4 linked regions of the Homo sapiens genome follow. The protein of the gene in region 4 purifies or fractionates together with the protein of the main gene of each other region. This does not show direct contact. Each region holds a gene or a part of one and is shown on either strand. Other genes may lie near its edges. The genes, in order: NMT2, AFG2B, PRIM2 and PRPS2.

Region 1 (4,459 bases), on a different chromosome or scaffold from region 4:
TTTAGGAAGGAATAGACATGAGCTTGGGAGAAAGACTTAATATTTAGAGAAAAAATATCAAAAATATAGAAAAAGTCAGATAAGGTTATTTTGACTGGGTACAGTTCACCCCCATTACGTGATTCACTTACCTCCTTGGAAATCTAACGTATAAAAGGTATGATGGTAATTGGATGAAATGTGGCCAAAAGATTAAAAAAACTGAGGAGCTTGGGTTCTCAGAGGTGGGTGTGTGACAAGAGTCCTTCAGGTTAGGAGATGGAGCATAACCGATGCTCTGTTAGAGTGTCTGCTGTTTACAGTGTGTATGGAAAAGTTACTTTCTGTAATTTAGAAGGAAGGTATTTACTAAAGATTTTTCCAGCTGAAAGTCTGGCTGACTCATGGATTATGCCATCTCTCGATTTAAATTTTACTTAGTGCCATCTTGGCCAAAAAGAAGAAAAAAAGATACCTTATTGAATAGAACATTTTCATTATAGACAAAGTACAGTACAATGCAGTTTTAAATCTACAAGAAACTATCCATTGCATTTCAATTTAGTTTTAATAGCTACTTCATAAGCAAGCAGTTTAATTCTCGAAAATGTTAATTAGTAATCTGCTTCAATTATGGAGGCAAATGTAGTTATTATTCTATTTAAAAGTGGTTAATAATTTGATAACAAATTATGTAAATGACTCTTTAAAGGAGCAGTGTAACTGTCACCGTGAGGTAAGCTCATGACAAAGTTTCCAACTGGCAATGCTGCAGTTATTTATTTTACTTTCGAGATAGAGTCTCACTCTGTTGCCCAGGCTGGAGTGCAGTGGTGTGATCCCGGCTCACTGCAACCCCGCCTCCTGGGTTCAAGCGATTCTCCTGCCTCAGCCTCCTGAATAGCTGGGATTACAGGTGCACACCCCCATGTCCGGCTAGTTTTTGTAATTTTAGTAGAGATAGGGCTTCACCATGTTGGCCAGGCTGGTCTCAAGACTCCTGACCTCAAGTGATCTGCTCACCTTGGCCTCCCAAAGTGCAGGGATTACAGGTGTGAGCCACCGTGCCTGGCTGATTCTGCAATTATTTGAAAACCTACTTTGTATAGACTTTGTGGCATGAAAATGAGTGGGAAGTAAAGTCCTAAATTAGAGCCTTGACTCCAGGTTAAGTCAAAATCTCATTTACTTAATGCTGGTATCTCAAACCCTGTTCCAGTGAATGAGGACTGTTTTGTTTCTTGAAGCCTTTCTCCTGTTAAGAAAGAACGCTAATGCAATTAGGGTGGAACCATCTGAAATTCCAAGTCTTCCATTATCTCCAAGAGAGGTCCTATATTATGTACTACTGTGGGGCCCAGTCGCCCTCTGGTGGTAGTCTCAGGGATGTCACAGCTGTGGGTTGGTCTTTAGAATCACGGCAACCTATAGAAAGGAGAGTTCCAACTCCTTCGTAGTGACCAAGGTCAACAAACTTTCTGTAAAAGACCAGAGAGTGAATATCTTAGGCTTTGCAGGCCACACAATCTGTCACAACAACTCAACTCAGCTTTGTAGTGTGAAGCAGCCATAGGCAATATGTAAATGAAAGTGGCTGTGGCCAAGAGTGGTGGCTCATGTCTATAATCCCAGTACTTTGGGAGGCCAAGGCAGAAGGATCACTTGAGGCCAGGAGTTAAAGACCAGCACGGGAAACATAGCAAGACCTTGTCTCTACAAAAAATGAAAAACTTAGCCAGGCGTGGTGGTATGCACGCCCAGCTAGTTCTTTTTCTTCAAAAAGACGCTGAAGCAGGAGGATCATTTTAACCCAGGAGTTTGGGGCTGCAGTGAGCTGTTGACTGTGCCACTGTATTCTAGCCTGGACAATAGAGTGAGACCCTGTCCTAAAAAAAAAAAAAAAAAAAGTATGGCTATGTTCCAATAAAACCTTATTGAGGGACACCGGAATTTGAATTTTGTGTAATTTGCACATGTCACAAAATGATGTCATTTTTTGGCTTTTTCTCCTCAACCATTCCAGAAAATAAAAACATTCTTAGCCTGTGGGCTACACAAAAATAAGCAATGGGCTGGATTTAGCCCACAGGCCATAGTTTGGTGGCCCCTGCCTGGGATAAGATATGATTGGTTTCACTGGACTCATAACTTGAAGGAAATGCCATCATGTCTAAAACAATTAACTTCTGCACTGAACTTCCTAGGCACTGGCCCAGTAAAAGCAGGGAAAAGTATCTACTTTTGTTTTTTGAGACGGAGTCTTGCACTGTCACCCAGGCTGGAGTGCAGTGGCACGATCTTGGCTCACTGCAACTTCCGCCTCCTGGGTTCAAGTGATTCTCCTGCCTCAGCCTCCTAGCAGCTGGGATTACAGGCACCCGCCACCACACCCAGCTAGTTCTTTTTGAATTTTTAGTAGAGATGGGGTTTCACCATGTTGGCCAGGCTGGTCTCGAACCCCTGACCTCAAATGTTTCGCCCGCCTTGGCCTCCCAAAGTGCTGGGATTACAGGCGTGAGCCACCACACCCAGCCAAGGCATCTACTTTGTGGTATCTGAGTTGAGGCCAGGCTACGTGGCCTCGGTTAGCATCTTATTTTTCCCGCAGATTATTGGCAATATAAACACACATCTGTAAGCCATGAAAGTTTTTCAAATTCTAGATTAAAAACACCATCAGTAACAAAATTATGAATACTTATTTACAAATAAGACATTTTCCATTAGCATGACACATGACAGTTTTCATGATAAAATCAGCATAGAGGAGTATGTGCAATTTTGCATAAGTAATAAAAACATTCAAACTATCAATGCCCTGATAGCACGAATAAGTTCCACCAGGCATCTCTTTTGACTTTACAGTTTTTTATTTCCTTTTCTTCATATATCCTTGATGTTGCTGAGAAGAAACTGAACTTTGCACAACAGCAGAAAAGTCTAGTTAGTCGCGGGTACAGGCTCTTTCTTTTTTTTTTTTTTTGAGACGGAGTCTCACGCTCTGTCACCCAGGCTGGAGTGCAGTGGCTCGATCTCGGCTCACTGCAACCTCACCTCTCAGGTTCAAGCGATTCTCCTGCCTCAGCCTCCCAAGCAGCTGGGACTACAGGCACACGCCACCACGCCCGGCTAATTTTTGTATTTTTAGTAGAGATGGGGTTTCACTATGTTGGCCAGAATGGTCTCGATCTCCTGACCTCATGATCTGCCCACCTTGGCCTCCCAAAGTGCTGGGATTACAGGCGTGAGCCACCACGCCCGGCCTCAGGCTCTTTCAGAGAGCACAGTGAGTGCTTGCACAAAACTCTGCTTTTGAAGCAATCCACTGACCTGGTAAAGATCAAAGTACAAACTTGCATGTTTATTGATTCGGCAACTCTGCTTATGGAGAAATACATGTACTAGTCACCAGTACATTTTAATATTGCTCTGCACTTAAACAACCACCACCTGTCACTGAGCTACAGAAGTGTTGATTCCATAAATGTTCCCAGTGATACCATGTAAGGTGATACCAGTAAAAAAAATTTCCAAATGGATCTTTTGTTCTGTTACATGGACAAATGTACCATCACTTAAGAAACAGAAATGCAGCAATTTCTCTCCACACAATAGCAAAGATTTTCTTACATGACTCTGTAACTTCTACTTAGTCCATAGAAAAACAGTCCCTTTTCTAAGGGTGAAAAAATACCTCTTCAAGAGACAGGCAAAAATTTGAAAATTACAAGAATGTGCTCTTTGTAGCCTTTCATCCCTCCCACAAATAGGTCAACAGTAAAAAAAGGATGAAGTTTAACATTCTAGCTAGAAACGTACAAATGTCACATGTGGACTTTTGTCATCTTTTCTGATTATCGACTACTTCAATTTCACTTGAGTTGTGCTTTTATTCTTCTTTGGAATGGCAGTTCCAGAAATCATTAAATATTAACAAATGATGATGTCAGAGTTCTAGAAATAAAAATATCCATCTATTGTAGTACTAGTCCAACCTGAAGGGAGGGAAGAAATGGAATAGTAAGAAAAATTAGATTGCAATGTAGTACAATAGATCTGTCTTTCTAAAAGCTGTCTTAAGGCTCAGCTCACACCTGTAATCCCGGCACTTTGGGAGGCCAAGGCAGGCGGATCACCTGAGGTCAGGAGTTTGAGACCAGCCTGGCCAACATGGTCAAACCCCATCTCTACTAAAAATGAAAAAATTAGCCAGGCATGGTGGTGGATGTAATCCCAGCTACTCGGGAGGCTGAGGCAGGAGAATCACTTGAACCTGGGAGGCGGAGGTTGCAGTGAGCTGAGATCATGCCATTGCACTCCAGCCTGGGGGACAGAGCGAGACTTCATCTCAAAAAAATAAATAAATAAATAAATAAAATGAACAAAAATAAAATAAAGCTGTCTTAAGTCTAAGTGAAGCAAGTATGAAATTGTCTAGGTACATTTGTTGAGTTTACAAGGGCTATATCCATTTCACTTA
Region 2 (7,030 bases), on a different chromosome or scaffold from region 4:
TGTTTAAGTGTGGGAGTCCCAATGACCACCTATATGCAAAGCAAAACAAAAAAAAGAAGAAGAAGTATATAGTTTAAAATATATTATTTTTAAAGTTGATCTCATGGATGGAGGTAGACAGCAGAATGATAGCAACCAGACACTGGGAAGGGTTGGGGGTGAGGGGATGAAGACAGGTTGGCTCATGGGTACAAACATACAGTTAGGTAGAAGGAATATGTGTAATGTTTGATAGTGTAGTAGGGTGACTATAGTTAACAATAATTTCTCGTATATTTCAAAATAGCTACTAGAGAGAATCTGAAATATTCCCAACACTCAGATAAGAAATGATAAATGTTTGAGGTGATGGATATCCTAAGCACCCTGATTTGATAATTACAAATTGTATGCATGTACCAAAATATCACATGTACCCCAAAACATGCACAATTATGTATCAATAAAAATAGATCAATTAAAAAAGAATTACTTCCAAAAAAATTTTATATATGTGTGTGTATACATATATATATTTTTTTTTTCTTTTTTTTTTTTTTTTGAGACACAGTTTCACTCTGCTGCCCAGTCTGGAGTGCAGCGGGCACCATCTCAGCTCACTGCAACCTCCACCTCCTGGTTCAAGTGATTCTGGTGCCTCAGCCTCCAGAGTAGCTAGAACTACAGGCATGTGCCACCATGCCCGGCTTATTTTTTGTATTTTTAGCAGAGACGGGGTTTCACCATCTTGGCCAGGCTGGTCTCGAACTCCTGACCTCAGGTGATCCACCCACCTCAGCCTCCCAAAGTATTGAGATTGCAGGCGTGAGCCACCGCGCCCGGCCAAAATAATAATATGTTTTTTATCCTGACAAACATGTACGACAATTTAGTGAACCACTTTGGAACTAGTACCGTGCACTTTACGTATACTTTAGATTCTGAATATACGAAAATCCTAATATTCCAGAGGAGTAACACTGGCTAGAAAGTTGCACAATGAAAATTCTATGTCATTTAACAAGTTTTTGTTATTTTTAAGAACACACAAAGTTCTAGAAGCCAGGTATAGATAGCTAGGTCCCTGCCCTTAAGGACACAGGTACTAGATAGTGCAAGGAAGAAATCCACTCAAGTCCTGAACTAACTGAGCTAAAAGTGTGTAATTATCATTTCTCTTTTGAATCCTATCACAAAATAGAAATATCAGTCACTAAATTTCAAACTGTTCTTTAGAATTCAAGTCAATTTAGGACCAAAGCTTAAAATAGGACAGCTCTGAATATTCAACCTCCCTGACAACTCAGGGAGCAGTTGTGGGTACCTCCTCAATTGTGGAATAGGATGCTGGTGTTATGACAAGGAATGAATAAATCCAGAAGAGTTAATGCCTGCTTCCATTTAGTTCTTCCCCACCTTCTCCCTTTTTATTTCAACACACTTACTTCTTGAGGCTATCCTTCTTTAAATTCTCATTCCAAAAAATGAGTTTAACACGCTTGTAGGTGACCAAAATTCTCTTAAGAATTAACATTACTGATTATAGGACCTGCACAACAAAATTAATCTGTAATGGACACCTCGCTTCCCAAAACAATTAGACTCTGGGGAAACAGGTCCTGACTCTCAGATCCTGACTCACAGGTCCTGACAATTTGACTCTGGGGAAATACAGGTCCTGACTCACAGATCATATATCGGCAGAGAACGTGTTCTCTGCATTGCAAAGAGCCCCAACTCCAACCTCACCGATGCTCAAACCTAAGAGGCAAACGCCTCCGGGGCAGCCAAATGGCGCCAGAAGCGGCCGAGGTTCCACCGACAGTGGGCAAACCCGCCAAGCCCATTCACCTCTCGGTCAAATCTCCCGGGCCTACGCAGCGCTGGGTCTAGAGCGTCCGGCCGGTTAGTGGCTCCCACAACCACGACCTCGCGGTCCCCACTGGCGCCGTCCAGCAGCGTCAACACCTGGGCCACTACGCGGCTCTCGGGTGCTCGACTGCCCCGCTGGGGACACAAGGCGTCCATCTCGTCCAGGAAGAGGAGGCTGGGTCCGCGGCTGGCCAGTTCCCGGGCGCGCTGGAAGACCCGCCGCACGTTCTCCTCGGTCTCCCCAGGCCGGGAACCCTGCAGCGCCGGGGCGCTGACTGCCAGCAGCTCCGCGCCCGCCTCGCGCGCCACGGCCCGCACCAGCTGGGTCTTGCCCACTCCGGGGGGCCCCGCCAGGAGCACCCCGCGAGGCACCGCTAAGCCCAGCGCGGTCAGGGCGCGCGGGTAGCGGAGCGGGAGGCGGAGGAGCTCCCGCAGCGAGTCGGCCGCCTCCGAAAGACCTCCCAGGGGCACCTCGGGCTGCGGCTGGGCTTCCGACGGAGGCTCCCCGCCAAGGCTGACGCGGGTACGAGGGGTGACCAGCCCAGCGGGATCGGGACTGGGCGTCCCGCCGACGATGTGCAAGGCAGCCACCAGGCCAGGAGCGCCTGGCGGAGCGACCACCACGTGGCCCAGGGAGATCGGTCGGTTTCTCAGCAGCTCCTGTGCCGCCTCCAGCACCGCGGCTGTATTCCGGGCACCGGGCGCGCCTGCCCGCTCTCGCAACACCGGCCACACGGCGACGCGCCGCAGGGGCGGACAGGGCACTAGGAGGAGGCGATTCAGGCTGAGACTCCTCCGGGATCTCGACGCCCCGACCGCCGCCCCGGGGCTCGCGCACAGCGGGTCCAGCTGCACAAAGCCGTCCGCTCCGTCCCGCCGAGGCCAGGCAGTGCAGAGGCAGGAGCCGCCGTCGGGTAGCGAGATCTTCACTGCCGAGCCCAAGCGCGCGCCCAGGGCGTGGAGGGCGGCCGGGCCCAGGCGGCAGCGCTGGGTGCCCCGGTCTCTAGCGTCTAAGGGTAGCAGCTTTAAGAGCGGCCCTTCAGGGAAGGGATCCGAGTCCGGAGCCATCGCACACAGATGAACCAGGCAGACGAAACCAGATTAGGAAACCCACCCGGCCCACAAAAAGCGGAACACCGAGCTCGCAGGCCGGAAGCAGATTGCGCGCATGCGCTAGGGCAGACTGCGTTGCTAGCAGCTGAGTGAAGGCCGAAAGGGCCAATGGAAACGTTAGACGACGCTCGGGCCTCTGGGTAGAGCGTTGGTGTCCGCTTTCGTGAAATCGAGTTGCCTAACCCAGAGCTTTCCCGAGATGGTCTTCGTTACAGGTGTCTGGGAGGCGGCTTAAGCTCACTTCACTAGGTCATTAAGCATGTACTTTGGTGGTTACATATATCTTGGAAGTCACCGGCTTTACATTCTGTTTTCCTGGCCTTCGAACTGGAGCATCAGTACTACCGCCGTTGGAATAGCAACCTAGAGACTTTGCTATTTTGTGAAGAAACTCTAACTATCCGCATGGGCACAGAATTTTGGGTGCTCTGGTGCAAATGTCTCAGGTGACTTGGCGTAACTGAGAATACAGCCTTGGGACCTTCGGTAATCGGGGTTCCAATCTGGGAGGTCCAGGCACAACCCTTCCTATGGGAAAGTACCAGCATAGTGGGAGGGAAGCACACGGTAGCGCTTAAAATCCCTTGTAGAGAGGAAAGAAGGAAAACTAGGCTACCTGATGGATTTGTAGCACACCAACAGTACATTTGTTCTGATTTCTGATATTCTTTTGAATATTCTTTGGCAACAAGTTAATCACTAAAGTTCATGCGATCAATGCTTACTGTCTAATTGGGGCACAACAGTACTAAGTCCTGTATTAGAGGCGATACCTATCTACGTTATTAAGACAACTGCCTGCTATTTTTTTTTTCCAGCTGCTTTCTGCCTTTCCCTTTCGCACAGGGAATTCCTTTTTATCAGCTGGAATACATTTTCTATCCCTCTTAATTGCCGTTAAAAAAGAACTACAGATACTCAAAGACAAGAAGATATACCTTGTTTTTATTTGACTTACATCTTCCTACCTCTATTTTCCCCACTTTCACTGCAACCCAAATTTGTGAGTTGACAAAACTGATATTTTAGAGTGCTTAAGTTGCTGGGAAGTTTTTTTTTTCTATCTATGCAAATAATCAATTACAGACTGTGTAGTAATATCTTATCAATGGGAAGTACTGTCAGATCTGGGATCTTAAGACCCATGCCAGTTCCTGATCTCATTCTGTCCAAACTTCATGGCAGACATGACAGACTTCTTGACTTGACAGTAACTTACCTGGTCTCAGCTGTACTTGTCTGCTTAAATCGATTCTGGAACAATTTAGGAATCAGAAAATAGCAGGAGGAGGTCTTGAAATGGATAAGTCACCCATTACTTCCTGTTTTCTTTTTTCCTCTTAATCCCATTGGCTTCAGTTCTTTTTGGTTTGGGGACTTTTAAATAACAGCTTTGCATTTTTTGAAATAAAAAAAAAGCCATCGTTTTTACCGACCCCTAAAGGTGTGAATTACATGCCTATCAAGTTATTTTATCAGAAGCCTGTACCTCATCGAGTTCCTTCTATTCAGCTCCAAGAAGCTTTAAGGATCTGGGAGAGGGAAAGAAGACTTACTGAGGACAGGATAACTGTCTTAAATATGTAAAGGGATCTCATGTAAAAGAGTTAGTAGATTTACTTATATTTACAGTGCAGAAATGGCCAAGAAGTAAAGGTTTAATGGAGTGGAATAACCAAAGCCAAAACAGGGAGCCAATAAAGTTAAATCGGCCTCAAAATTTTCTGAATTGGTTTAAAACAGAGGCACAAACTATGCTATTAGGAATATGATGAGAAGGAAACTACATGTTGCTTTTGGTTGGTCTAAGAGGTTGATTTTATACAAGGTCAAACAAGAACCCTCTGACCTTATAGAATCCATATGCACAGGAAATATTATTTCACTTCACTCTTTCTCTAAAAGATCCAGTCTTTACCATAGGTTGCAAACAAAAGCAACAAGGAATTCTGTTACTGGGCCTTCAGCTCTTATCCACTCACTCTGAGCAAAACTATAAATGTCTTTCCCAATCATCCAGTAAAATCCATTCTGTCCCTTTAGGTCTAACCATTTGCAACACTATGATTTCAGCCATCTGAACATCCATATTTATCATGCCATTCAATGACATAATCTCCTTGTGATAAACCATTCTTTTTATTTTTAAAATTTTATTTATTTTTTAGACAGTCTTGCTCTGTCACCCAGTCTTGAGTGCAATGGCAGGATCTCAGCTCACTGCAACATCTGTTTCCCAAGTTCAAGCAATTCTCCTGCCTCAGGCTCCCAAGTAGCTGGGATTACAGGTGCCTACCACCACGCCTGGCTAACTTTTGGATTTTTAGTAGAGATAGGGTTTTACCCTGTTGGCCAGGCTGGTCTCGAACTCCAGGCCTCAAGTGATCCACCTGCCTCAGCCTCCCAAAGTGCTGAGATTACAGGCATGAGCCACTGCACCTGGCCTCCTTGTGGTAAACCATTCTAATGGGAGTTGTGTGGCTCTTTTGCTTAGTTGTTTTTAATCTGACCAGAAATTTGTTAATTCTATGAATTGAAGAACATCAATTAAAGCACTAGAATTGAACCACTAGAGGGAGTCCAGAACCAACTAAGCCTGAAGGCTACAGGATTGTTAGGACGTTGGTGTTCTCAACTGTGGTTTCCACTCAATTTTCCCAGGATTCACACCTAGGTGTATGAAGCCATCTGTTGTCTCTATATATTATCTGGCTTAGTCTGTTCAGGCTGCTGTAACAAAATACTACGAACGAGGTAGCTTATAAATGACAGCAATTTATTTTTTACAGTTCTGGAGGCTGGGAAGTCAAAGACAAGGCACTGGCAGATTCCATGACTGGTAAGGGCCCCCTGTCTAGAGACAGCTCATTGTACCTGCACATGGTGGAAGGGACTAGCTAGCTCCCTCATGTTTCTTTTATAAGCACACTAATCCCATTCATGAGGGCTCCACTCTCGTGACCTAATCACCTCCCAAAAGGCCCTGACTCCTACTACCATCATCTCAAGGGTTAAAATTTCAACAAATGAATTTTGTGGAGGACACAAACACTGAGACCCTAGCAGTAACTGACTTATTTTCACATAATTTTTCACAAGCCTCAAGCTGTGTAAAACTCAGTTTCTAAGTTAAAATTTAATTTTTGTGTTAAGTATAAAAATGAGACTGTTCCTAAATCCAAAATTTAGTGGTAGGTCAAAATCCAAACCGATGGAATTCATCTTGCTATAGCCTAGAAACATTTCTAGCTTTAAATTGTTTCAAATAGCTTTGCCAAACAAAATCTTTTGTGAGATTTTCCCGAAAAGGTACATGTGACAAATGGTTTCTCTTTATGTCCTTTGTTACATTCAAGGTTACAATCTGTCTAATTTTTAATTAACTATAAAAATTCTTAATTAACTGTAAGTCTATAATTCAAAAGAAATAATTGGAATCTGTTTCTTTAGGATAATGATCATGCAATATTTTTGTCCCTTCAGCATATTATATATGTATATAAAAATATATTCCTGTATATGAAAAAAATCTAAAGAAAATGGTTAAACCAGTAGCATGAGTCATCTGTAGATTAAATAATGTTAATCTTTCCAGCATTTCCATTTTTGTGTTATGTTCAACCCTAATATATTTGAACATTAGCAATGACTATGAGTTGTAATAGATGAATAGAGATTTGTTTAGCCACCCTTGAAAAAGCATGATTTGCAAACACTTTCATCTCAACATGCTCATGTAGATGTAGTAAGTGACTTATTTCCACGGATAGCTAATATGCCGAACCTGTGTTCATAAAGTATGTAATGAAAATCCCCCTAAATGGGACATTGTTAAAATTGTTCTTTAGAATCTTCCATCTTTACTTTTTATCTTGTATCCAGGTTAGAATTAGTCTTTAGAGTAATTCTAGATATAGAATAAGTTATAGAATCAGAAGAAGGAGGATGAAAATATTTGCTGGATTTCAAATGACCTGCAGACTACAGTTCATAGAACATCATTCTGAAAGTCTGTTCTTGCACATTTTCAGGAAATTGCTTGATTCATCATTTTTTAGAAGTTAAT
Region 3 (7,035 bases), on a different chromosome or scaffold from region 4:
GGATCAAAGTTAAAAGCAAAGTGGAAGATGCAGTGGGTTTGGTTCAGATGGTACCATGCATGACATCTGTCTATGCAAAGGTAGATGTGACTTAGAAACCTCATGAAGTAAATGAAAGAAACTATAGAAACTGCCTACCTAGCATATATTTGACACTAAACGTCTACAAAATGTTTGTTCACTTCCCTTCACAGTCTCTTTTCCCTAACTCATATACTCCATAGTGTTCCTTGCTACAGTGGATATGTCTTCTACTTGTCAGACAGGACAATGTCTTTCACCTATTGCAACTTCTACTTTTTTATTTTATTTGGCTTTAAGCCACGCATTCCAACAACAAAATAGAGTCTCTGCCAGTCCTACTACCATCTGACTGCTCTAAAACTTCCAAAACATAATGTTTCTACATTCCCATTGTGGCATATATCTACCTAAAAGACATAAATTCTAGGCCCGGCACGGTGGCTCACACCTGTAATCCCAGCACTTTGGGAGGCCGAGGCGGGTGTATCACCTGAGGTCAGGGGGTTCAAGACCACCCTGGCCAACATGGCAAAACTACGTCTCTAAAAATACAAAAATTAGCCAGGCATGGTGGCACACACCTGTAGTCACAGCTACTCAGGAGGCTGAGGCAGGAGAATCGCTTGAACCCAGAAGGTGGAGGTTGCAGTGAGCCGAGATCAGGCCACTGCATATTCCAGCCTGGATGACAGAGTGAGGCTCCATCTCAAAAAAAAAAAAAAAAAAAAAAAAAAGATACAAATTCTATTTCCAATACTCATCCCCATTAAATGAGTCCCAAAGATCTCTTCTTTTTTTATATAATTACAATATGTAAATCATTCAGATATGTCTGCAAAATTATTTTTTAAAACTATTCATACAGATCTTACTGACATTTTTGATTTATGGTTTTTATTTTTTTTTTGAGACGGAGTCTTGCTCTTTCGCCCAGACTAGAGTGCAGCGGCATGATCTCAGCTCATTGCAACCTCCACCTCCCGGGTTCAAGCAATTTTCATGCCTTAGCCTCCTGACTAGCTGGAATTATGGACGCGCAGCACCATGCCTGGCTAATTTTTGTATTTTTTGTAGAGTGGGGGTTTCACTATGTTGGTCAAGATGGTCTCGCACTTTTGACCTCAAGTGATCTGCCCACCACAGACTCCCAAAGTGCTGGGATTACAGGTGTGAGGCACCACGCCCCGCCTGACAACTGACTTTTAAATAAAGTATTACCTCCTCTAAATTTCACGACTATAAATAAGAAACTACCACTTGTCTAGTTTAACACATTATTAGCTTTATTTTGGCCGACAAAATTTTGGTTAAAGATGAACCTTTATAAACTAAACCTTCTTGTGCTTTAATAAAGCACACATTTAACAGAGCAAGTAAGTGTGAGACTTTGTTATTAAGGAGTCCTTTTCTTCTAGTCATAGAGAAGGAAAGATATATTGTTATCCAAAGCTATTAGCTACTGTTTCAGGCAGGTACTTGGAGAATGTAAAGAGAACACACTACACATTAGTACCAGCACTTAAGACAGAAGGGAAAAATGAATGGTGAGAACAATTAGAAATAACTACAAAAATATACTTACAGCCTCAAACTGCAATTGGCTATCCTTTAAGAAATCCTGAATTTTATCCTTGGGTAAAATACTAAATCTAAATCGAAGGAGATCCATTTCTTGTTGAATGAACCAGCGTCTAAGTTCTTCACTGAAATGAAGACAGAAATTATGAGTACAAACTAAAAATCCAGTAATTATTAAATCTAAGAAATGTTTATAAAACAATATTCAAACATCAGCAAGATGCCAATGGACAGCAGTTAAAAACATGCAAGTCCTCTATCACGGTAAGGAGAATATCAATACCACATATCACAATCTTCTAAGGATGGGTTGGGTACAAGGTATAGGGGGTGTTAAAAATTAAAAAGATTAAATACAAGAATGCTTCGAGACTAGCTGCATTATTTTTAAATAACATAAAATACTTCATGCATTTAATGTAACTGCAAAATATTCATTTTATGTTAGAAAATAGGGGCTGGGCGTCGTGGTTCATGCCCGTAATCCCAGCACCTTGGGAGGTCAAGGCAGGCAGATTGCTCGAGCCCAGAAGTTTGAGACCAGCCTGGGCAAGTTGGTAAAACCCCATATCTACAAAAAAATTAGCCAGGCATGGTAGCATGTGCCTATAGTCCCAGCTCCTCAGGAGGCTGAGGTGGGAGGATCACCTGAGCCCACGGATGTTGAGGCTGCAGTGAGCCGAGATCACACCACTGTACTCCAGCCTAGGTAATGGCATGAGACCCTAGCTCAAAAAAAAAAAAGAGAGAGAGAGAAAAGAGAAAAAAAAAAGAAAATGGGGAAATGGGGCACTCCTTTGGCTTGAGGTGTCTTTATAAATGCCAAATAAAAGACACCAAATTTTTTAAGGCAACTTTGATCAGATTAACTTTGCAAAGGAAACTTTGCTTATGGCTTTATAATTGATAATTTCACAAAATTTAATATGCACATATATACCACAATATTTAAAAGCAATAACGTTCATTTATAAGGCAGATACTAATGGGCATTATCGTTATATAATAAAATAATTACCCTACTGGATGCAAAATATGATTTCACATTTTTAGGAGATTTTCACAGATTGTCAGCAACATATTTATTATATAAATTTCACAAACTACATATGCTTTTTTACAGAAGAAAAACTCTAGAACCAAAACTGGTAAGTAATTTCTCAATTATTATCTTGGGATAGTAAGCAATTCCAGAGTCTCACTTGATAAGCTTATTAATTTTAAAAAAAGACAGCCATAACTAAATTATGTGACCAAAATTAACATGTGAGGGAAAAACAATTTTTAAAAAAGCAACTAACTTTACTACCTCTGGGTGGCACTATTAACTTAAAAGAAACCAACTACCAAACAAAAATATCTTCGATTTAACTGGCCCATAGAGCTCAAATTCCAAAAACCTGTATCAAATTCAAGTGTGGGTTTCATTAATTGTTTCTTATAAATATTACCATTTTTTTGCAGGAAAAATATCAAAAGTCCTTCTTCCCAATAAAATCCTTTCCAATTTAAAATCCCAAATGAAGAGTCTATCTCACAAACTTAAGAAGTGTTTCATCAGGCAAAATTCTGCGATAGAATTTTTTTCAATATTTTTAAGTAAACAATTTCTTCCAAACAATTTACTGTCAGTGTTCAACCCCATGATCAACCGGCTCCTGATGTTATTCTGGGTTTTCCTATGTTTAGCACAACACATCAACTTACCACACACCAATTTATAACCCATGACACCAGATTTGACTGTGAGAATATAAACATATACTTACGACTGGCAATAAGCAAGCCGCAAAATAAAATGAGAAATATGATCTCTTCTTCGTGGTTCATATTCATCTTCTAAGTTTTCCTTAAAAATAATGACACATGAATAAAATAAATGCATTAGAATGGTAAGAGGTGTAAGGAAATACTGAGCCAGCCTAAGCCAATGGTAAAGTAAGTTTCAAAAACATTTCTTTTTTTAGAGATGGGGTCTTGCTCTACCACCCAGACTGGAGAGTAGTGGTCAATCACAGCTCACTGTAACTTCAAACTCCTGGGCTCAAGTGATCCTCCAGCCTCAACCTCCCAAGCAGCTGGGACTACAAGCGACACCCACCATGCCCCGCTAATTTTTTATCTTCTGTATGATGGAGTCTCAATATGTTGCCTAGGCTGGTTATGAACTCCTGGTTTCAAGACTCCTACTCTAGTCCCTCAAAGCACTAGAATTACAGGCATGAGCCACCACACCCAGTCCCAAAACATTTCTTTTTTTTTTTTCCTTTTTACTTTAAGTTCTGGGATACATGTGCAGAATGTGCAGGTTTGTTACATAGGTATACGTGTGCCATGGTGGTTTGCTGCCCGTCATCTAGGTTTTAAGCCCCACATGCATTAGGTATTTGTCCTAATGCTGTCTCTCCCCTTGACCCCAACCCCCTGACAGGCCCTGGTGTGGGGTGTTCCCCTCCCTGTGTCCATGTGTTCTCATTGCCAAAACATTTCTTAATATGCTTTTCAGGATAATTATCATTTACCTTAAGCTATCAATCAGATGAAACCGAGAAGTAAACTAATCTTGACAAAACCCCTTGAGTTTGGACCGCACTATTTTCTTCCCACCAACCCCTCTCTTTTAATTTTCTTCTTATCCAGCCTATATCCAAGGTGCTCACCACCTCAACCACTTCTTACACCAACCTCAGCTTCTTTAATTTCAACCATTTGGCAAAACCTAGATTCTTAATCTACAACTACACTCTGCAGTCCTATTCTCAAAATGCTAAGAACCTCTGGAGAAAAAACACAACTATGGGAATTTGGAAAATATAATTTCGTGGCCTATAATCTCAACTAGATCCTTACCAACAGTTGGATCCAAAATAATAAGAACAAACATGTCTTGAGCACTCACTAGGTACCAGGCGGTGCCCTAAGAATTTTTAAGGCATGAACCCATTTAATCCTTTAAAAAAAAAAAAACCCTATGAGGGAGGCACTACTATAATCTTATTTTACAGATAAGGAAACTGAGGCACAGAGAAGTTATGTAACTTGTTCAGGGTCACAAAGCTTGTCCAGAGTAAGCAGCAGTGTTGAGATTCGACACAAAATCATCTCCTTCCTCACTTCTCAGAAAATCGTCAGTCTTCACCAGTTGTCCCAAGACCCCTACTATAGCACCTTTCCCTTCTCTCTGAACAGATGACTTCACCTACTTTACAGAAAATAAAGGCTACCAGGCAGAATCCTTCAGTCCCAAGCTTCCGCATACACATGTTGTGTTGCCTTCCATACATCTCTACAAAGCATCTCCTCTTCCTGGCATGTAAAGCTACATTAGTCCATTCTCATGCTGCTAATAAAGACATACCCAAGACTGAGTAAACCCATAAAAGGAAAGAGGTTTAACTGACTCACAGTTCCCCAGGGCTGGGGAGACCTCAGGAAACTTACAATCATGGCAGAAGGGGAAACAAACACGTCCTTCTTCACATGGTGGCAGTAAGGAGAAGTGCTGAGCAAAATAGGGAAAAGCCCCTTATAAAACCATCAGATCTTGTGAGAACTCACTATCTAGAATAGCAGCATGGGGGTAACCACCCCCATGATTCAATTACCTCCCACCGGGTCCCTCCCATGACACATGGGGATTATGGGAACTACAATTCAAGATGAGATTTGGGTGGGGACACAGCCAAACCATATGAAAAGCTAATTCCTGCACCTAAACCCCGCAACCCATTTGCTTGTGCCTCTTAAAGACCCTGACTTATCAAATGCTCTCTCAAAGTTTCAACTTCAAGCTCCCCTCTTCCCCATTCTATTCTAGATCTTCTGCTCAGCTTATAAACATGTTTAAGTATCTCCTGTCATATATGTACAAGTGTGTGCTTGTATATCTTCTCTTTTCCCTAAAACAACCCCTATATTCTGCCCTATTTCTCTTCTCTTTTCAGCTACACATTTTAAAAAAGTACATCTTCTATATCCACCGCTCCACCTTCCTTCTCCAACCACTGTCATTGTTCTGGTCTCTGCCCCTATCTATAAGGGCCCATCCAGCTGCTAAATCCAATGGACACTGTACAATTCATCTTACATAATCTATCTTAAGCTTCTGAAACTATTGTGGTTAAAAGCACCACTACAGAAACAAAATACCCAGATTCAAATCTTGGCTCCACCATTTACCATCTTATGAGCTTGGGCAAGTTATTCAGTCTGTGAATAAATAGGCTGTATCTGTAAAATAGGGATGATAATAATACCCACCTCATAAGACTGCTGTATGAATTACATACATGGGTTAATATATGTAATGCACTTAGAACAAAATCTGGTACATAGCAAACATACTATTAATATAAATATCTGCTGTTATTCCCTATTATCATTATTAATATCATGATCATTATTATTGAAACTCTAGCCCTCCTTGGCTTCTATGACACTACTATCCTGGTTCATCTCCTACTTCTGAGAAAGCTCCTTTCCATTCTCCTTCCCAAATTCCTCCAATTCCACTTTACCTTCAATATTGGTATTCCTCATGTCTTAACTTCCACTGTCATCTCTTCTCACTCAAATATTTTTCTAGGGTGCTCTTACCTACTCCTGATGATTCCAACCTTCTGCTAAATCTACTCCCACCACATGTCTTCCTGTATATTCAGACCTGTATATCCAATTGTCCACTAGACATCTCCACAGGCACCTCAAATTCATGTTAAGAACTAAACTCTACGTCTTCCAAGACTTGCTTCTCCTCCTGCATATCACATCTCAAAATATTACCACCATCCACTAATTTTCCTAACTAGAAACCTGGGTGTCATTTATAACTCTTCTCTCTCCATTCCCCCTACAATCAGTCACTAAAACCTTTTGATTCTACCTTCTTAATGTCTCTTCAACCGGTCCCCTTCTCTCATTTAATTCAGACTCTCATCATTTCCGGGCTTCTAACTGGTTTCCCTCCTAACAGACATGACCCTGTCAATCTGCTGCTGGCAGTCATCTTCCCAAAATGAAAATCTAATCACATCTGTCAACATGCAGCTCCACTACTACCTCTTCTGGAAAGCCTTCCCAAACCTCCCCAATCTGAGCTGCATAATTATGTATGTTTTTGGAGTTCCTGGAGCATGCATCTATAAACACAGTCATCATCCTGTATTGCACGGGATACATTTGGCATGTCTGGAAATATGTAGGGGTAGAAGCCAGAGATGCTACTGAGCATCCTACAGTGCACAGAACAATCCCTGCAACAAGGAATTATCAGACCCAAAATGATGTTAGTCCTGAGGTTGAGAAACCCTGCCATATTATAATCATCTGACTTCATGTCAATCACCCCTAATACACTGAAGAACCTTCAGGCTAATGATACATTAGTCTTTATAAAAGCCCAGTGCCTAATATAATATCTTTCCCACAAGTGAC
Region 4 (7,171 bases):
ATTATGATACACCAACTTGCAAGCCCAGTCCTTAATGGACTGGTGGCTTCAATGTCCTGTCTTTTGGAACATGTGCTCTTAGAACCCAGCTTCCATGCTGTAAGGAAGCTCAAGCAGCCCCATGGAGAGGCCTACAAGAAGAGGAGCTGAGGTTCCTAACCAAGCTCCCAGGCAAAAGCTAGTAACAACTTCAGTCATGTGAGCCATCTTCAAGAACCCTCCAGCCCCAGTTAGCCGCCTCAGCTGTGACCAGCCTCAGCTGTGACCATACGCGGCAAAAACAAGCTTTCTTCACTGAGCCCTTCCCAAATTGCAGATTTGTAAGCCAAATCAACAATTACTGTTTTAAGCCATTAAGCTCTTTATTTATTACATGGTAACCGATAACCTTGTATAACTTTGCATAACCTTGTCTCACAGTATAGCTAAAGATTCTGCCAGCAGGTTAACTGACCATAGTAAAATGTTACAACAGAGACATCTAGACACCTGCTGTCCTAAGATGTCATCATGGAATTTCCATGGTCTATAGTGAAGCTGGAGCGGACCTCTCCCTGCATATCTGAAATGATTTAGGGATAAGAAGGTAAAATTGGAAGGCTCTATGTTCAGTAAAGTAGCATATAAAAAACGCAAAATGGGAGGATTGATGGCCAGGAGACAGCAAACCAGATTTCTGATCCTAGTTCAGTGACAGATTCAAGAAGGGGCCCTTACATGAACTGAATCAATTTTGTCTTCATTTTGCCCTTCAGTTTTTCCTCTCTACGATTACACAGCTAAAAGCTGGATTCCTAGCACAGTAACTGGTCCAGAGAGGGCTGTTTATAAAAATTAAGCTCTGTACTTGTACAGTTCATGGAAAAGAGAAAAGTCAGGCAGTGAACCTTTTATACTCTATACATTAAAAACATAAAATGTAGCTATATAGGCAATTCCCAAACTTCATGCTGAGTGGTTTTTGAGGTCCCACGATTTCTAATTATCAAGTGATGGTTATAAAATGCCAAAAACAAAATAAAAGTGAGTCTGCTTTATATTTGAACCAAATGTATAAACAATCATACTTCAGTGTCTGAGTGAGTTTTGCCCAGTGGCACATGTGGTATTTTTAGGAGAAACTCAACACTGACTTAGCAGTGAACTGATCTAGATTAACCATGCTCCTTAGCAAAAGATCATGCTGCACTGAGTACCTGGAAGGGCAACATATTTGCTTTCAAAATTTACTTCATCAACAAATTTCTCCTTTACTTATATGACGACACCTTCTGAACAAAAACTATTCTTCTTCTCGTGTTCTTACAGCGACTGAAACTTGAACAAGACTGGCAAAATACTGCAACACTCAAACCTAGCTCTATCCTTCTCCAGAGCCCTAGACCATCCTCTCAGACTTCTGCATTAAACACTGCAGAGTGGAATTCTTTAGCCAAAGTCCACCTGCCACTCATTCACAATGTTTCTTCGCTTATATTATCATCGGAGCCATAACTGGAATTTGCCACCTGGAAGAAGTCACGTAAGATTCACATATCCTAAAAAGCTGACTTGCCAAAATATAGCATCTTCCCCATCAGTATTAACATAACTCCTCCTTAAGAAATTTTTGCCTAACCCCAAGTCAAGATTTTCTGCTAGAAATTTTATAGTTCTAGATTTTACAATTAGGTCTATGATCCACTTCAAAGTTAATTTTTACAAATGGTGAAAAGTATGGATGGAAGTTCATATTTTTTGGCATATGGGTGTCCAACTGTTCCAACACCATTTCTAGAAAATGTTGGTAAAATTGAACCTTTGCCAAAGATATAAAAATTATCAGTAACTGTGGACAGTTAACGGTACTAGACATTGGAGGAAGAAGGGGGAAAAATGAGACCAATTTGAAATGAGTCAAGGAGCTGTGTGGACTCAGGCAGATAGACAAAGGAGCCCCCCAGGTCAGCTTCCGAGGATGGCCACCACCTGAGGCTCTCCTGGACTTGAGAAATGGGTGAAAGTTACAGTCGAATCACGGCGTTGTTGCTGGACACAGCAGAGTCCTAGAACAAGAAGGAAGCTGAAAGTCCATCATCTTTAAAGCAGCAAGAGTAGTGGGAGCAGAGGGGAGCCCAGCACGTGCGTCCTGGGGTTCTCACAGTCTTTCAAACCTTGGCACAACTGCACCCTCTGGATAACGCAGTGGTCTGCGCCCTGGCTGCTCAGGAGAAGCCAGGGAAGCTTGTAAAATCGCTGATCCTCCGCCCGTTGGATCAAACCCTTGGGGGCAGGTCGGGGGAAGCAGCGTTCGGACCGTCCCCAGGTAAACCCAGCGTGCAACCAGAGTTGGGGACGGGGGGAAACCTTTAGTCGCACGCACTGGTCTGAGGTTCAGCTTTGTAGGGACGCGGAAACTGGGACCAGCCAACCCAGGACGTCTCTCCACCGCGCGCTGACCCGATGCGGTTCCCGCCCGCTGCGCCCACTCTCTCCCCGACGGTCTGTGACCGCCCAGACGTCTCCCTTCCGGGCTGGGGACGCCAGGCCGGGCGGCACCGCTGGGAGGCCGGGAGCGGCTCGGGACCGCCGGGTCGCCGCGGTCCCAGGACCGGAGGCCCTGCAACCGGGGGCACAGCCGAGGCGCGCATCGGGACGCGCGGCGCCCCGCCTCGGTTTCTTCGCAGGCGCGGGCGCGGGGGCGCGGAGGCCGCGTTGCCACCGTCCCGCCCCGGAAGGGGGAGCGCGGCGTCCGCGGAGGTGGCCCGGGCAGGCGCCGGCCCCCAACCCGGCCCCGCAGCCGCGTGCCCAGCGCTCTCCCTAGCCCGGCCGCCGGCGCGGCCCCCACCTGGTCTCCTGGTTGCTGAACTTCTTCGTGACCACCTTGCCCAGCTCCAGGCCCAGGCGGTCGGCCACGCGCTGGGACAGGTCCTGATGCGAGCTGCCGCTGAACAGCACGATGTTGGGCATGGTGGGGCGCGGAACTCCGAGGGGCGCGCGGCGGCGGAGGAGGTGGCGGAGGCAACAGCGACAGCGACGCGGGAGGCTGCTGCTGCGGGAGCGGGAAAGCGCGGCGGCTAGATGTAGGGAAGGGGAGGAGCGGAGGGGGAGGAGCCGGAGGAGGAGCTAGAGGGGGCAGAGAGGGAGGAAGAGCGGGCGTGGAGGGGGAGCTGGAAAGTGCCGGGGGGCGGGGGCACAGCCCTGGCAGCAGTTTTGGACGCCCTGGGTGGTCCTGAAGCCCGAAGGTGTCCTTGCTCCGCGAGAGAGCTCCGAGCTTCATTCTTGATCTTCCAGACCTGCCTCGCGGGGAGAGCCAATGAACCGCGGTTAGCTGGGCACAGAGGGAGAGTTCGGGCCGGGGGGATCCCTCGAGGTGCTTCGCAGCCCGGAGCGACTTCCCACCCCGGAACACCGCAAACCCAGTGTGGGCGACTGGTGTTCAGCTATAGCAAGGGTCTGCAAACTACAGCCTATGGGCCAGATCGCGAGAGCTCCCTGTGTTTGTACCAGAGAGCTAAGCATGGTTTTCATACATGAACATTTGCACTTTATGTGATGATAGCAGACACCGCCTTTGAACTCCAATTAAGAGAAATATCCCCCCCGCAAAAGAATTCCTTTTCTCTCATTAATAGATGTGAGTTGCAAATAATTGTACTCAAATATTACCGTATTTTGGATTATATCAATAAAAACATTGTGACAATTTTTTCTCTCTTGTTATGTAAGTTCCTACGTAATATCTTCCCTTTTCTTGCTTGGTCTGCAAAATGTAAATATTGGCCATGTGGTCCCTCATAGTTCAAACTTGATGACCCCTGAACTACAGAGTTGCCCCTGCACCATGTGTCCTTAAAAAATCCAACCACTATGTGAGTCCTCATCACAGGCTGAGGGGAAGTATTGCTCTTGGTGGCTCACTGGATCAAACCAAGTCCCCCAGATTCACCATTTTTCGGTAGATGTGATGGTCCTTGGGGCACTTCACAACCTTCTGCCTGTTGGGTGCTCAAGGGCCTGATCCCAGGAACACAGATCTCCCTAGACAATCCAGCTCAGTCCCTCCACATCCCTGGAGTCAGGGCCTCCTTCCTCTCTTTCCTGCTAGAAACCAGCAAAAAGGTTTTCTCAAGATGCCAATGCAGTACCAGAGCCAACTTCAGGGCACAAACCAAGTGTAGGAGAAAGGAAAGCAGTCCCTGTCTATAGAGGGCTGGTTGGTGATGCTGGTCACAGTTTCACACTCCTCAACAAAGGCTGATTCAACCGGGTAGATAAATGGCTTGGTTTTACTAATGTTTGCCACGAATTGGCTCTCCATCAACAGCAAAGCCCACTTGCAATTGGGTTGTAGCCTACTCTAATCAGACTTCATAATGGGATTTGGGAGATTACAGGGATGATTCGCATCATTGGGATTTTTCATCTGGGTCCTTGTACTTTGCAAGGAGATTACTTGGCACATCGAGTGTTTCTTGTAAACTTTTGTATCTGCCAGCCTATCAAAAAGTTATTCAAACTGACAATTTTAGCAGCATTTCTGGCCCTTTTTCATTCCGCCTAGAGATGCATATGTGCCCTATTATGTGAGAAAACAAACAAAAACCCCTATCTGCAATGGTTTATTATCTATGTATTTCACAGCTAATTACCATAGCAATGAGATTTATACTTGACCCACTATGTTTAAAATTTTTATTGAGTCTGCTAATGTAGTTATATTTAAACTCTTCTAATAAAATTTACTATCAGCAAATTACTATAATTTTTATATTCTTAATATTTCTCTCATAGATAAAATTGACTAATAATGGTTTCTTCTAAATATATAGATGCTCTTCTCAAAGGGAAAGTGGCATCCTCTTAGCATGATGGGGCTGTGGTTCTTTGGTAACACAGAACCAAAGCTGATGGACTATAAAACAGTAAAAGTTAAAGCCCCTGGTCTTTGGGTGGGTAAATGGCTGCAGATTTGGAAGCTCGGATTGAATTGTGACAAACCATGGACTTGATAGCACCAAGGAGAAACAATATCTCAGTTGGGGCAACTAATACAATGATTGTTGGTTCAATAGTTTGATGAGTTACTCTGCTTAAATGCTAAATGTAAACAAGGTGAAATGTGCCATTGGGGTTGATGAGAATACTAATGGGAATCATTGAAAAATCATCATGAGTCACAGACTGTTCAGAAAGCTGTCACTTGTAAATGAGCAGCTACAGATAATTTTATTTAAGTGTGAAAACTTTCTCTCCCAAATGCCTTTATCCTTGATCCATAGGAGCCAGGTTGTGGGAAACATTGGTCTAGAGCAGGTTTCTGAACCTCAGCACAGCTGATATTTAGGCTGGGTAATTCTTTGTTGTGGGACTGTCCTGTGCATTGCAGATTGTTTAGCAGCCTCCCTTGCCTCTACCCACTAGATGCCAGTAGCACCTATCCACCACTGTGACAACCAAAAGTGTCCCCAGACATTGCCAAATGTCCTACAAGGAGCAAAATCACCACAGGTTGAGAATCACTAGTTTGAAAGAACCCCTGGCCCTTCTCTCCTCCATGTGGGCCTTTCTTCATGGTTGTTTGGGCTTCCTTACGGCATGGCTGCAAGGTTCCAAGGAGTGTTCCAAGAAGATAAGTCTCAATGAGCAAGTGCTTATCAAACCTCTGTTTTTAACTTGCTTGCTAATGTCTCATTGACCAAAGCAAGTTACATGGCCAAGACCAGCTGTCAACATGGTATGGGACAACTGGAGGGCATGAGTACTGTCCACCAACTGTCTACCACAGTGCACTTCTTGAACAACATTTGAAGTTGGGGAGCCTCTGGAAAAATGGAACACTTGTTCAAAGACCCAAGACTTAGAAGAGAAAAAGAACATATACTCTGTGCATATGTGATCTGGGTCTCAGACCGTTTATAAAATATACATTATCTTAAGATAAAATGTTAGTGGAAAAAATTAAAATGATGAGATATTTTCTATTGTTGATTTCTATCTTCATTGACTCATGGATAGAGATTAACGGTAAAACAATGATTTGAATTTATGAACAGTTTCACGTCTTCTATTTCCCACATCATCTAGCCAAGTTCTTTGTATATAGTAAGAAGTCTAAGTATTTGCTGAGTGAATTTATCCCTGACTATTTTAGGGCTGAGAAACGGAAGAAATTTCCCCAAGTCACATGGCTAGTTGAAAGCAGCAAAGGAATTAGAATGTGGATCTTCTAGTCCAGTCCTTTTCTCTCTAGAATGGTACCATCCAAAAGAAATGTAATGATTGTTTCCTATATGTTTCTATGAAAAAATTTTAAACTTTTTAAAAAGAAATATAATGCAAGCCACATATGTAATTTACACTTTAGTAGCTGTATTTTAAAAGAATATAAAAAACAAGTGAAGGTAATTTTAATAATACACTTTAATCCAATATCCAAAATATTATCATTCCAACATGTAATCAACATAAAACATATTAATGAGCTACTTTGCATCTTTTTGTGTCAAGCCTTCAAAATCCAATATAGATTTTACGCTTACAGCACATCTTAATTTGGACTTGCCATATCTGAAGTGCTCATCAGCCACATGTGGCTGATAGTTGCTGTATTAGAACAAGAAGTTCTAGAACACTAGTTCCTAAGAGCAATGCCAAGACACTCTGACATAACCTTTTTCTTGTATGTTTTTATTAGGGGTGTGGCAAATAATTTATAACTTATTATGAAATGCTAACATTTATAAGCAATGTACTTTAAAAATAAGTTAAAATAGATTCAACTTTAATTCTCTATTAATAACATTTTCACTCAGAATCAAGTAATTTTTCTGATTTTTATTTCTAGAACTTTACCTTTTACTTCTGTTGTTTAAAGAAAAATCCAAAAACCGAGATGAAAATAGAGTGAACACCGATATACCCACCACCTAGATTTTGTAGCTGTCAAAATTTTCCCATGTTTGCTTTATCTGTTTTTATCTAAAGTATTTTAAAGTAAATTACAGATGTTATATATTCACCTCTAAATTATTTAGCCTGCATATATCTGTAAAAAGATAAAGACATCACACCGTATGCAAACGTTAATTTAAAATTGATCAAAGACCTAAATGCAAGAGCTAAAACTATAAAACTCTTTTTCTTTTCTTTTTTTCTTTTTTTCTTCTCTTTTTTCTTTTCTTTTTCTTTT

The links.
Region 1: the proteins of PRPS2 (region 4) and NMT2 purify together in Homo sapiens (affinity purification with mass spectrometry; 3 studies listed by BioGRID and IntAct, with this or other methods). This does not show direct contact.
Region 2: the proteins of PRPS2 (region 4) and AFG2B purify together in Homo sapiens (affinity purification with mass spectrometry; 2 studies listed by BioGRID and IntAct, with this or other methods). This does not show direct contact.
Region 3: the proteins of PRPS2 (region 4) and PRIM2 purify together in Homo sapiens (affinity purification with mass spectrometry; 3 studies listed by BioGRID and IntAct, with this or other methods). This does not show direct contact.

What each region holds. Positions count from the first base shown.
Region 1 is NC_000010.11:15,105,242-15,109,700, forward strand, and holds the end of NMT2 (glycylpeptide N-tetradecanoyltransferase 2), read right to left. Parts: intron 3,975-4,459; coding exon 3,954-3,974; 3' UTR 1,458-3,953; coding exon of another isoform or gene 1,446-1,457; 3' UTR 529-1,445; downstream 1-528.
Region 2 is NC_000015.10:45,398,319-45,405,348, reverse strand, and holds the start of AFG2B (ATPase family gene 2 protein homolog B), read right to left. Parts: upstream 3,014-7,030; 5' UTR 2,920-3,013; coding exon 1,831-2,919; intron 30-1,830; coding exon 1-29. UniProt on the Homo sapiens protein: ATP-dependent chaperone part of the 55LCC heterohexameric ATPase complex which is chromatin-associated and promotes replisome proteostasis to maintain replication fork progression and genome stability.
Region 3 is NC_000006.12:57,320,617-57,327,651, reverse strand, and holds part of PRIM2 (DNA primase large subunit), read right to left. Parts: intron 3,452-7,035; coding exon 3,372-3,451; intron 1,728-3,371; coding exon 1,607-1,727; coding exon of another isoform or gene 1,589-1,606; exon of another isoform or gene 1,285-1,588; intron 1-1,284. UniProt on the Homo sapiens protein: Regulatory subunit of the DNA primase complex and component of the DNA polymerase alpha complex (also known as the alpha DNA polymerase-primase complex) which play an essential role in the initiation of DNA synthesis.
Region 4 is NC_000023.11:12,787,276-12,794,446, reverse strand, and holds the start of PRPS2 (ribose-phosphate pyrophosphokinase 2), read right to left. Parts: upstream 3,036-7,171; 5' UTR 2,950-3,035; coding exon 2,828-2,949; intron 1-2,827. UniProt on the Homo sapiens protein: Catalyzes the synthesis of phosphoribosylpyrophosphate (PRPP) that is essential for nucleotide synthesis.